2 linked regions of the Homo sapiens genome follow. The protein of the gene in region 1 purifies or fractionates together with the protein of each later gene. This does not show direct contact. Each region holds a gene or a part of one and is shown on either strand. Other genes may lie near its edges.

Evidence for each region.
Region 2: the proteins of PGCKA1 (region 1) and STK24 purify together in Homo sapiens (affinity purification with mass spectrometry; 3 studies listed by BioGRID and IntAct, with this or other methods). This does not show direct contact.

What each region holds. Positions count from the first base shown.
Region 1 is NC_000004.12:37,589,924-37,594,302, forward strand, and holds the end of PGCKA1 (PDCD10 and GCKIII kinases-associated protein 1), read left to right. Parts: intron 1-164; coding exon 165-1,077; 3' UTR 1,078-3,587; downstream 3,588-4,379. UniProt on the Homo sapiens protein: Acts as a tumor suppressor. Acts as a tumor suppressor for colorectal cancer cell proliferation by targeting KEAP1/USP17/ELK1/CDK6 axis.
Region 2 is NC_000013.11:98,567,048-98,574,340, forward strand, and holds part of STK24 (serine/threonine-protein kinase 24 isoform b precursor), read right to left. Parts: intron 1-7,293. UniProt on the Homo sapiens protein: Serine/threonine-protein kinase that acts on both serine and threonine residues and promotes apoptosis in response to stress stimuli and caspase activation.

The sequences.
Region 1 (4,379 bases):
ACATTTTTATACCAACTATATCTATTTGATTTAGACATACTTATCTAGGTTGAAAAGTAATCACAGAAATTAAATTAGCAGGAATCGTAGAAAGAAGCAGGGCCTGTGGTAAAAAGCATTAATGATGGAGCAGACCTGACTGGTTTTCATTGTCTTTCCTGAAGCTATCTCTTTGATCCAGTTCAAGTGCCCTCTCCTGGCTATGTCAATGAAGTCAACAGCTGCAAGCTAGATGAAGACGACACTGATAAATTAAAAGGCAAATGGAGCAGTGAAGTCTTGGTGCAGAAAAATGACCCTCAGAGGCAGGGCTCAAAGAAGACTGAGAGCAGCAGCAGGACAGCTGATCCATGGGAGCCCTGCTGGCCTCACCAAGGGCCGCTCCCACAGGGGGACGCTGGAGGGGAACACCATGCCTGCGGTGTCAACGGCATCGGCCCTGCTGCCACTCCACAGCCCACTGGGAATTCCAGCCCCACCCAGGATGACAGGGGCTCCTGGGCCAGTACTGCAAATACTGTTCCCCCAACTCAACCCTTCCTGGAAGGAGGGGGCACCAGGAAACAGGACTGTGTGCTGCTGGCCTCAGAAGGGACCCAAGTCATGAGAAATGGAGACTCCAGAGCTCCTTCTGAGGCAGAAAGTTTTGCCTTGGAAGTACAAGACCATGTCTTCCAGATACCAGCCCCAGATTACCTTCAGCATTGGGGCCCAGCTGGAGACAACGTTGATCATAATGAAAAGGACTGTGTTTTCAAGAACCATACTGAGGATGAATCCCTAGAGGGAATTCAGCCCCCAGTGGGGGAGCATGGTTTGAATACGCCCTTCTCTGTGAGGAGAAGCTGGGATTCATTGAATGAGGATGTGGAAACAGAAGTTCTAAGCATCTGCTTTAATGAGAAGGGTCCTGTTCATGCCATGCCTGTGGTTGACTCAGGAAACAGGCAGGAGGATACCCATGGCTCCGATGGAGATGGGGATGGGGAGATTGTGGACGAGGATGCAGCGGTGGCGGAGGCCCTTGCAGCTTTAGAAGCTGCTACTGCAGGAGAAGATTTGGATGAGACTGATTAGGGGAGGGGATTTGCACAGGGAGGTAAGCTGGTGTCATGCTGAGCATGCAGATGCATTTGCTCCCTGGATGCATAGCAGGTGATTCTGCCAGCATGCACCAGTGCAGCCTTACCAGTTGTTTACATCCAGCATCTGTTCTGATTGTCAGCATCTGTCCCATGCTGCTTGTCACATATCTGGAGTTTCACTCTGTGTAGATGAGCTGTCATTCAGGACACTAGGAGAAAAATCTGAGTGGGTCATTGTGCCCATATCCACAGAAAATGCAGAAGTTGAACAGCTTGCTTGACAACCCTCAAACATCTTTGAGCACCTGGTACAGATGTTTATGAGAATACTCTAAGATCTCAACCCTTGATCCCAAAGGCACACAATCACAGAGCATTCCTTTTGACTGTAAACTGTTTACCTTGCTTTTGAGAGCCAAACATTGTACCCAACCTGGAAAAAGTAACTACCCCAATTAAAGTGCCTCATGTGTCCCCAGAGCATGGCTTAACTTCAGGGACAATCACCCAGGGAACTAATAACTAACCAGTTGTTCAACAGCGGGTTAAGCTCAGCAGTTTTCACAGTAGAGCAGAAGTCCCCAGGAAACAAAGGGTTAGTCATTAGCTGAGATGTTGATTTTAAAACACCTTGACCTTAACTTTTTTACATTATTACTTTTAAATCTCCTTTGGGATTGGGGAGGCTGGCCAAAATAAGTCTTAAAACTGCTTATGTCATATTTGGATTTTAAGTTCATGACATTCGGAACAGCAAAGCCATATATGCAATGTTTTTATGCCATTAAATGTCTGATTCCAATTAAAATATAACAACGTATGTGTCTTTCTAGAAGTCTTAACTCAAAGGTGGTTCTAATTTTCTCAGAATATCAGTGACCCTGGATGTTACTTTCAATGTAAAGAACTAATCTAGATGGCCGGGCGTGGTGGCTCATGCCTGTAATCCCAGCACTTTGGGAGGCCGAGGCGGGTGGATCACAAGGTCAGGAGTTCAAGATCAGCCTGGCCAACATAGTGAAACCCTGTCTCTACTAAAAATACAAAAAATTATCCGGGCACGGTGGCGGGCGCCTGTAATCCCAGCTACTTGGGAGGCTGAGGCAAGGAGAATCACTTGAACCTGGGAGGTGGAGGTTGCAGTGAGCTGAGATCGTGCCACTGCACTCCAGCCTGGGTGACAGTGCAAGACTCCATCTCAAAAAAAAAAAAAAAAAAAAGAGCTAAGCTAGGCACAGTGGCTCATGTCTGTAATCTGAGCACTTTGGAAGGCTGAGGTGAGAGGATTGCCAGGGCCAGGAATTCGAGACCAACCTGGGCAATTTAGCGAGACCCCATCTCTATGAAAAAAAAAAAAAAAAAAAGAGCTAGACTACAAAATTATACTCAAGGAAGGGACCGAGCTGGTTTGCAGAGCCATAGCTTTGGCTTTCTCTCTGTCAAACTTGATGCCATAACTAAATGTCCTGATCTTACCTCAAAGATGAACAAGCCCTCTCTGGATTTCAGCCTTCTAATTCACTGAAACAAGGACAACCATTCTAACGTAACTCAATGGAGAATTTAAAGGCATTAAGGATGCTCAAAACTATCTAGAAAAAAATAAACATGGAAGATGCTTTAGTTTGGTGTTTTGTAACACAGAATTGAAATCTGACTGAACTTCATTTGATTTCCAGCTTTGCCATGTGACCTTGGACAAGTTATGTATCCCTTTACCCATCTGTAAAGTGAGAAGAATAATTGTATGTGCTTGTAAAGGTTAAATGAGATGATGTAAGTGTTTAGCACAGTGCTTGGCACACTAGGCACTCAAAAATGATGTTTTACTAGTTGAAAACAATTCCTTTAACAAACATTTTTACATCCCCACAACTGAAAACTCTAAAACTGGGAAGTATGTATAATGTCATTATTTGACTTTGGCAATTATTTAGTATAAAACATGATTTCTGAGCCTTCCAGCACCTTTAAGGACGGCACCCTTACAAATGCTTAATGAGCCTATGGGTTTGTTTGGTACTGTAATGACAAGCCATCGCAAGTGACCTCTATATACAGGGTCACTCAGAGCCCTTAAAAAGATAAAGTCTTGGCATTGTTAATTGCATTAGAGGTATGTCTCCTTTTGTATTTAGTACACCAAATACTTAATATTTCAGAATGCTTATTCCTTCAATGATTTCCTAAGTGTATCAGTTGAGATTATGTTCAGTTGTATGGGACGAGTGTTTTATACAAATAGAGGCTTATTTACCTCTTATGTAAAAGAAGTCTGGAGTTAGTGATCCAGGGTGGTAGAGAATGTATCACTGGCCCGTGTATCAATGACCCACATATCAATGACCCACGTATCAATGACCCGCATATGAATGACCCATGCTGCTTCAATCATTTTGGTTTCCTTCTCAAGATCACTTTGTAGTCCATAATGGCTGCTGTGGCTTCAGTCATTACATTTGCATTCCATGTTGGAAAAAGAATAAAGGAATAAAAACCCCACTCACTCTCTATTAAGGACCCCACAGAAGTATAATTCATCCCTTCCACATTACTCTCTTTGGTCAAAATCTGGTCACTTGGCCACATCTAGCTGCAAGAGAGACTAGGAAATCGTCTTGCTAGTGGTGTGCGTGGCTTTGCCAAATAAACTCAGAATGCAGTTACTAAGAAGGGGAAATGGACAATGAGTTTCGAGGCGGTCAGTTTACAGTCTCTGCCACAGGAGGTCTCAAAACCCAAAAGCCTGGGATACAGCTGGTTTCAAAAGATTGGAAGATCGTGTGTACATTCAGTGTGACACCAAAGGGGCTTCCACCTTTGGTCCGGGGGAAGGAGGACTGGACAGCTACCGCTGCTCCAACTTCCCATTGATAACTCCAAACCGGACGAAAAGAAGAAATTCAGACAAAGAAGGGGTAGGGTAAGGTATCAGGGCAGACAAGTCTCTTTCTCTTACCCAGACACACACTTTCGCATTTATATATGTATATAATTTTACATCTTAGAACAGCTGCAGAGTTCACCATAACTGACAGCTCTGTAGTTTTAAAGATTCTCTTTTATGAATAACTGCTTTGAAAAGGTCGACAGATGGCCAATACTTTCAAGAGTTCTTTAAAAGTAATTCTGGCCCCTTTCATCTTTACTCCAGTATCCAGGATCCCCCAAAGGAAATGAAAGTAAAAAATCTTTAGGTTGAAAAGTAATTCCAGCTTTTAGCCTTATCTACCAGGTTGTCTAACAGTGAGCTGTCTGAGCACGCTTATGTGTGTAGTGTCTTCTTTCTGCAGC
Region 2 (7,293 bases), on another chromosome or scaffold:
TGTAAAATTCTACCCAAGAAAGTACTCTGTCCTTAAGCAAGAAATCACTTGAAGGCCATACCCCAAAGAAGAGCTTTCGCTGTTTAGATACGCACCCTTCAAGTCCTCCATCCATTAACATGCTATGGATTTATGGCCAGCGCTGTGCAGTGCCCCCAGCGCGCAGACACCACTGACTCTGCAACATGCAATCTGCTAACACATGGCCACTGGGACAGCCACATAACACCCAGGCCCTCTGACGGGCTATTCGGCATCTGTGGCACACGTGTGCCCCAGTCCTGCACCGACCACCACGGAACATACGACCAGACTGATGCCACCTCCGCCCTGCCAAGAAGCACATACTCAATTCTGGACCAGGGGGTTGGAACCCCAAAGCATCATAAACTTAAGCAAGCGTTTCTCCAGAGAGATCCTATGAGGCTCCCGGACATCGTTCTGTGTCCACAGGATCTTGGGACCAAAAAAATGAGAGAAGCAAGAAGAGCAGGTTCTCAGTTCAAGTTGGGGAGGTGGAGGCCACCGACCAGTAGAGAGATGGAAAAATAAGCAGACATGTATACTGCTGTTTATTTACAGGGAGAAAATAAGAGGCACAATCTCATGATGAAGAGAACGGAGGCTCCGAGTTCTTGCCCGCCGCCCTGGCCCAGCAGTCAGTCCTAGCTCTTGGAATTTCCTCACCTGCCTGGCCCTGTCTTTATTCACCTATAAACTGAAGAATAGCAACTTGGAGGTAGAGGGGTCACACAGACAGCAGCATCTAATTGGGTCAATCCTGAAATCCCACTAAAATCATAAATCTAAAAACCACCACATACCTGAAACAGAGAGAAGACAACTGCAATGAAATCTCAGAAGCTGGAAAGTAGGTAGTGGTTTAAAAAAAAAAAGGGGGGGGGTGGGGAGTAGAGGAAGACAACGCTAAACCGGAGGTGCAGAAAACAGAGAACTTTTTTTTTTTTTGGAGGCACAGTCTCGCTCTGTCGCCCAGGCTGGAGTGCAATGGCGCGATCTCGGCTCCCTGCAACTTCCGTCTCCTGGGTTCAAGCAATTCTGCCTCAGCCTGCCAAGTAGCTGGGATTACAGGCGTGTATCATCACGCCTGGCTAATTTTTGTGTTTTTGGTAGAGAAGGGGTTTCACCATGTTGGTCAGGCTGGTCTCGAAATCCTGACCTCAAATGATCCACCCGCTTCGGCCTCCCAAAGTGCTGAGATTACAGGCATGAGCCATCGCGCCGGGCCAGCAGAGAACTAACTTAACTCACAGTGCTGGACCCCCGGCTCTCAGGAACTGACGGCACCAGTCCCTCTGCCGGGGGAATGAGTGAACCAGGCAGAGCCTCAAAGTCAGCCACAGAAGTGGGTAGACAGCCAGACAGCTTGCCCCACATCTCACAGCCAGGCTCCCAAAGTCAAGGAAATGATGAAAATATATTATCTGCAAAGGAAGGAAAAATTGAGGATATATGGACCAGGCTGCAGCAGACACAGCCGGAAGCAGAGGCAGCATACTTAAAAATGGGGAATGAAGGCCGGGGATGGTGGCTCACACCTGTAATCCCACCACTTTGGGAGGCCGAGGCATGTGGATCACCTGAGGTCAGGAGTTCGAGACCTGCCTGCTCCACATGGTGAAACCTCATCTCTACTAAAAAATACAAAAATTAGCCAGGCATGGTGGTGGGCGCCTGTAATCCCAGCTACTCGGGAGGCTGAGGCAGGAGAATCACTGGAACCTGGGGGGGCAGATGTTGCAGTGAATGAAGATCACGCCATTGCACTCCAGCCTGGGTGACAGAGCGAGACTCCATCTCGAAAAACAAAAAAGATAAAAGAATATTTGAGGGCCGATGCAGAAGGTTCACCATCCAAGTAATAAAGTTTCAGAAAGAAAGAACACAGAAAATGGAAGGGGGGAGGGGAATCAAAGAAAAAAGTCAATGAAAAGATCTGAGTCGCTTCACAGAAAAGGCCTAACCAAGTATCTGTCACGAGAAACGAAAACAGCCCCACTCCAAGCCACATCATTGTGAAACTTCAGAACTCAAGGAAAAAGTTCAGATCCCATTAGGTCCAGGAAGAACAGCACAGCCTGCACACACAGAAGCCGGTGCTGGCAGGGCCTCCATCTTCAACAGCAACACTGGAAGCTAAAACACAGTGGAGAAACACCTTTAAAATTCTGGAGGAAATGAATGTCCACCCTGCAATTTTACACCATGCTAAAATATCAACTGAGGGAGAAGAAAAAAAATTTTTGAAAAGCCTGTCTCCCACGCTGCCTATTCACAGAAAATGGCGCACTATATGCCCAACCAACATCATGGCATAAACCAAGAAAGAAAATGACAGCAGAGACAAAAAAAAAAAAACAAAAAAAAACAAAACAGATATTCAACACAAGAGAGCAGCAGAAGGAACCCAGAGGATGAGAGCAAAGGAAGACCAGAGGATGGGGGTGGCACAAGAAGCATAGAAGATACGCAGGTGACGAAAGGCACAGGTGCCACCCGAACTTCCTAAGACAAGGTTGCAACAACTACAGAGTGCTGGGATGAATGAGAAGCATTACCAAAAGAAAAGAAATCTGATCAGTAACTATGGTTGAGTAATAATGGCTGGGCTGCAGATCCGTCTGCAGTCCATTAATGTACACACCGCATTCTGACCTCACTGACATTACAACATCTCTCTGCTGGGGGAGAGCGGGGAGCCCATGTGAGGAAAAGAGGCAAGCGGAAGAGAAGTAAATCCTCATCCGCAGGGTCCAAAGTCTATAGACAATGCCTGAAACCAGGAAAAAAAAAAAAACACAGGCAGAAATTTTTTTTTTTTTTTTTGAGATGGAGTTTCACTCTGTCACCTAGGCTGGAGTGCAGTGGCACCATCTCAGCTCACTGCAACCTCCGCCTCCCAGGTTCAAAGAATTCTCCTGCCTCAGCCTCCCAAGTAGCTGGGAATACATGCGCCCACCACCACGCCCAGCTGTTTTTTTTGTATTTTTAGTAGAGACAGAGTTTCACCATGTTGGCCAGGCTGGTCTTGAACTCCTGACTTCAAGTGATCCACCTGCCTCAGCCTCCCAACGTGCTGGGATTACAGGCGTGAGCCACCGCCCCCGGTCAATTTTTTAATGTTCCTCATAAACTAAGGAGTAACAAAAACAAAAATCAACCAGGAGAGATCAAAGGGGCTGCCCTCGGGGAATAAGAAATGGCGGGAGGTGGAAGCAGCTGCTATCTTTCCCAACCAACCTTACAAAACTACCCATTAGACATTTCTAAATAGAAACTAAACAAAATCCTAAGTAATTACAAATAAAACAAAGGATGTGGACCTGTAACAGTTCTTTCAAACCTTACGGCCTAAAATTCTCTTAAAAAACAGGAAGAGACTTAAAATAATAGGAAGATAAACCCCAGCTACGTACTTGGTAAGCATTAATTTAAAACTTGAAATGTTCCCACAATGTATTCAGATACCAACAGAGCGCAGAACAGAAAAGGTTTCTTTTGCTGACGAAGAACCCTCAAGAAACACAATGGAAGGTCTCTAGAGTCAACAATGTTGTTCCCTGGGTGCGCATAAAGTGACTGGTAACCACCAATTTGGGATGTTTCACAGTTTGTACCAAGCAAAGGCATATCTCAGTTTATTTCCCCTAATTTAAACCTTGCAAACCAGGGAGCCATTTAGGATTAAGAAACTCCATAGTCACCCTCAGGAGGCAGGTTATTTTTCCCAAAGCATTTGGCACTTATATTTTTTATAATTTCCACTGCAAAAACATGAATTATGGGAAATGACTGCTACAAACTACTCCGACGACAGTGGCTGATTCTACGCGATGAGACATGGATAATAGAGTGCAACTTCTATTTCCTGCACTCACACCACCCACAAGATTCCATTAATGATAATCAGCTGAGCTAAGGCATTAAAAGGCACAGAAAGGTGGCTTGGGTGTGGTCCACTTCCTGCAGGTAAGGAGCTTCCACAAGGGCAGCTCTGAATCATCGGGAGTAATCGCCCAAATAAAGAGCTAAGGGGCCCGTTTCTCAGGAGACCATCGGACGCCTGGACTGCGGCTTTAGAGTGTGTGTAACCGCACAAGCACAGCAGAAAGTAGCAGTGACCATCGACAGGCTCCTCCCTTCAGTAACTGCTCACCCTGCATCTTGCACCAGGGTCCTGGAAAAATACTGAACTGAAAATGAAACTCAACCTGCACCACATTAGGCAGCTCAGCTCTACGCATCAGACCGTAGCTCCAAGAAGAGCATCAAAGTCAGAAAGAGGGTGGGAAAGCAATGATGCCAGCCGCCACCTGCCCATAACTGCTCAGCACAGTTAGCAAGCTAGAAAATCTCATCTGACCAATTCCTACTTGAAGGTCACTTGCTTTTATGTGACATGCTATCAAGAATACTCCCAGATCTGAGACTGGACTCCTCCAAAAGTTTGGGTTTTTCTAATTTAAAAAAACCTTGTGACCATCCTCCCCCTCAAAAAAGAACACTTTCAAGCAAAACAAATTCTTACCATTGTTACATTTTGGAACACGGAGTATTCAAAATAGGTTTTTTGTTTTTTTGACACTTACATAGGCAACTAACTAACAAAACAGTAACTAACAGTAACTGAGTACTTATTACTCTTTAGCACTGATCAGCAAAAAGGATCATAAAGCAAGAGGAGTAATGAGATACTATAAAATGTTCACTGAGAGTTCAAGCCACGAAGCTGAGTGAATGCTAAAAAAATCCACTTAGGCTGTCCTACTGACACCTGGGCTCCCCACTCGCATCCCTGGGCTTCCTCTTCCCTGAAGTGCTGCAATGCCTTCTAAAGGGGCACCCAGCACTCCCCACACCTGAGAAAGCAGGAGCCCCAAAGAACAGGAGATCATCTGCTCAAAAATGTGCCATACTTCCGGCTGTCTACAGATGCAAGGCCTCCCCCAGGCCCACAGGCACCCCACTGCCTCTTCAGCTCCAGGACCGATCTAGATCTAGCCCACCAGAAGCTGTGTCACCGCTTTCCAACCATGTGCCTTTGCTCACTGTGTCCTCAGTCACTGCAACCTTCTTAGAGCACATGCCCCAAAGCAGGCAGCCGACCTCTTGAGGACAGGATGGACTGAGGCTCTGAACTCTGCCTCCAACGACTCCGGGCACTATACTCTGCAGGCTCCCCTGTGCAGTCCAATGCTGTCAGTCACCAGAGCACACTCCACAGTTCAGCAAGTCCCCAAGGTGCTCTCCGAACCCACGTCTCGGATGTCCTGACTGTCCACACCCAGTGACACACCAACCTTCCCCCAGGGTGCAGATGGTAACAGGGTAACTGGGCAGGCACCTCCCAAGGAAGGAACGGAAAAGAACCCGTGGAAATGTGACACTAACAAGAAAAAAAAGTACAAGAGCACTTAAGCCACAATTAAATGCAGCTGTCCTGTGTTTGCCTTCATTTCCCAGACTCCCAGAGTGCACAGGCTTCCCTAGGGTGGAGCAGAGCACTTGAGAAAAGCTCCCCATGTTCCCAGACTGGCCATTAGACACCAGTCTCACTATCCTGATGCAAGGGGCATTCTCAGCAAAGGTCTATTTATCCAAGCAGCAAGAAAAACAGAAGGGGAACGAGGGGGACAGGATGATGTTAACAAGACAAACTTCAGGTTTTTAAGCTATTCCTCTAAATTATCTGTATTTTCAAATATGAAACTATGTTAAACTTACAACTTCAAAACATGGTAAATTAACCAGGCCCTGCAATATGCAATACATGTGACGTATATAATTCAGTATTTTTCAAACTGTGGGTCAGGAATCAGTGGGCTGTGAAATCAATCTAGTGTTGCAACCAGCTCCTTTTTTAAATATACCACAACAGCACATCACAAGCACAGGCTGAGCATCCCTGATCCAAAATGCTCCAAAATATGAAACTTTTCAGCGCCAACATGACACTCAAAGGAAATGCTCATTGGGAGCACTTCTGATTTCGGATGTTCAACAAGCATATAATGCAAATATTCCAAAATTCGAAACACTTGTGGTCCCAAGCATTTTGGATGAGGGATACTCAACCCGTAGTAAGGATTAGTACGGTCTCCTGAAACTTGTTTTTGATCCTGATGTAAAATATATTTCTTACATGGGTCACGGTTCAGAAAAGTTGAAAAGTGACTGATAAAATTTTGTAACAGAAATGTGCAAACCAAAATCTCATTTTTAAATCACATTTCTGCAAACTCAAAGCCGATTGGTGTTCCTGCCTCCATCTGAAGCTTTTCTTTTAATCTCAATTGAGTGAAACAACAAATGCTCAATGAAAGACGGAGTACTTATAGCCACAGATCAGCCTGATTTCTTTATGTTTATTCGTCACTATATTCATTCAGTTTCTGATGTCTATTTTTTTCCCCTACTGAAATATAAAACTGGGGTTTAAGAGAAAAAAAGCAAAGGCTTCAGCAACTTTCATTAAACATTTACTTTAAATGGTAACCTCATTCAGATCTACCACTTTCAACCCCTCCCCTAGGACCTGGCACATGAAAGTTCAATAAGGGTTGCTGATTGAATAAATTAAAAAATCAGCCTCCTATTTCTAATTTCTTTAGCCAATCTAACTAGCAATGAGATAAACTTTAATGTTTGCAAAAGTAACCATAAAACAGTAACACTGCATGATGAGTGGGAGTAGGAGGAGTAGTAGTTTCCAATCACAAATTTGCCACATAATATATGATCTCACCTTGGTCAGTTAAGTCTTCCTTGGTCTCCACATCTACAAAATGGTATAATATCATCTACATCTCAAACGGTACCGGTAAGAATCAAGAGGCATAAAAATGATTTGCAAAACATTGAAAAATGGTGTTTATACTAACATGGTTGTTATTTTTCAAGCATCCTTGCCTAGGCCACCTGAATTCACTCTGCTTTATTTTTTTATTTTATTTTTTTTTTTGAGACGGAGTCTGCCTCTGTCGCCCAGGCTGGGGTGCAACGGCACAATCTCAGCTCAACGCAACCTCCGCCTCCCGGGTTCAAGTGATTCTCCTGCCTCAGCCTCCCGAGTAGCTGGGATTACAGGCGTGTGCCACCACGCCCAGCTAATTTTTTGGATTTTTAGTAGAAACAGGGTTTCACCATGTTAGCCAGGATGGTCTCGATCTCCTGACCTCATGATCCGCCCACTTCGGCCTCTCAAACTGCTGAGATTACAGACTCTGCTGTCTTTCTAAGCCAACTCCTTATAAGCCCTGGTCAGGAGACAAG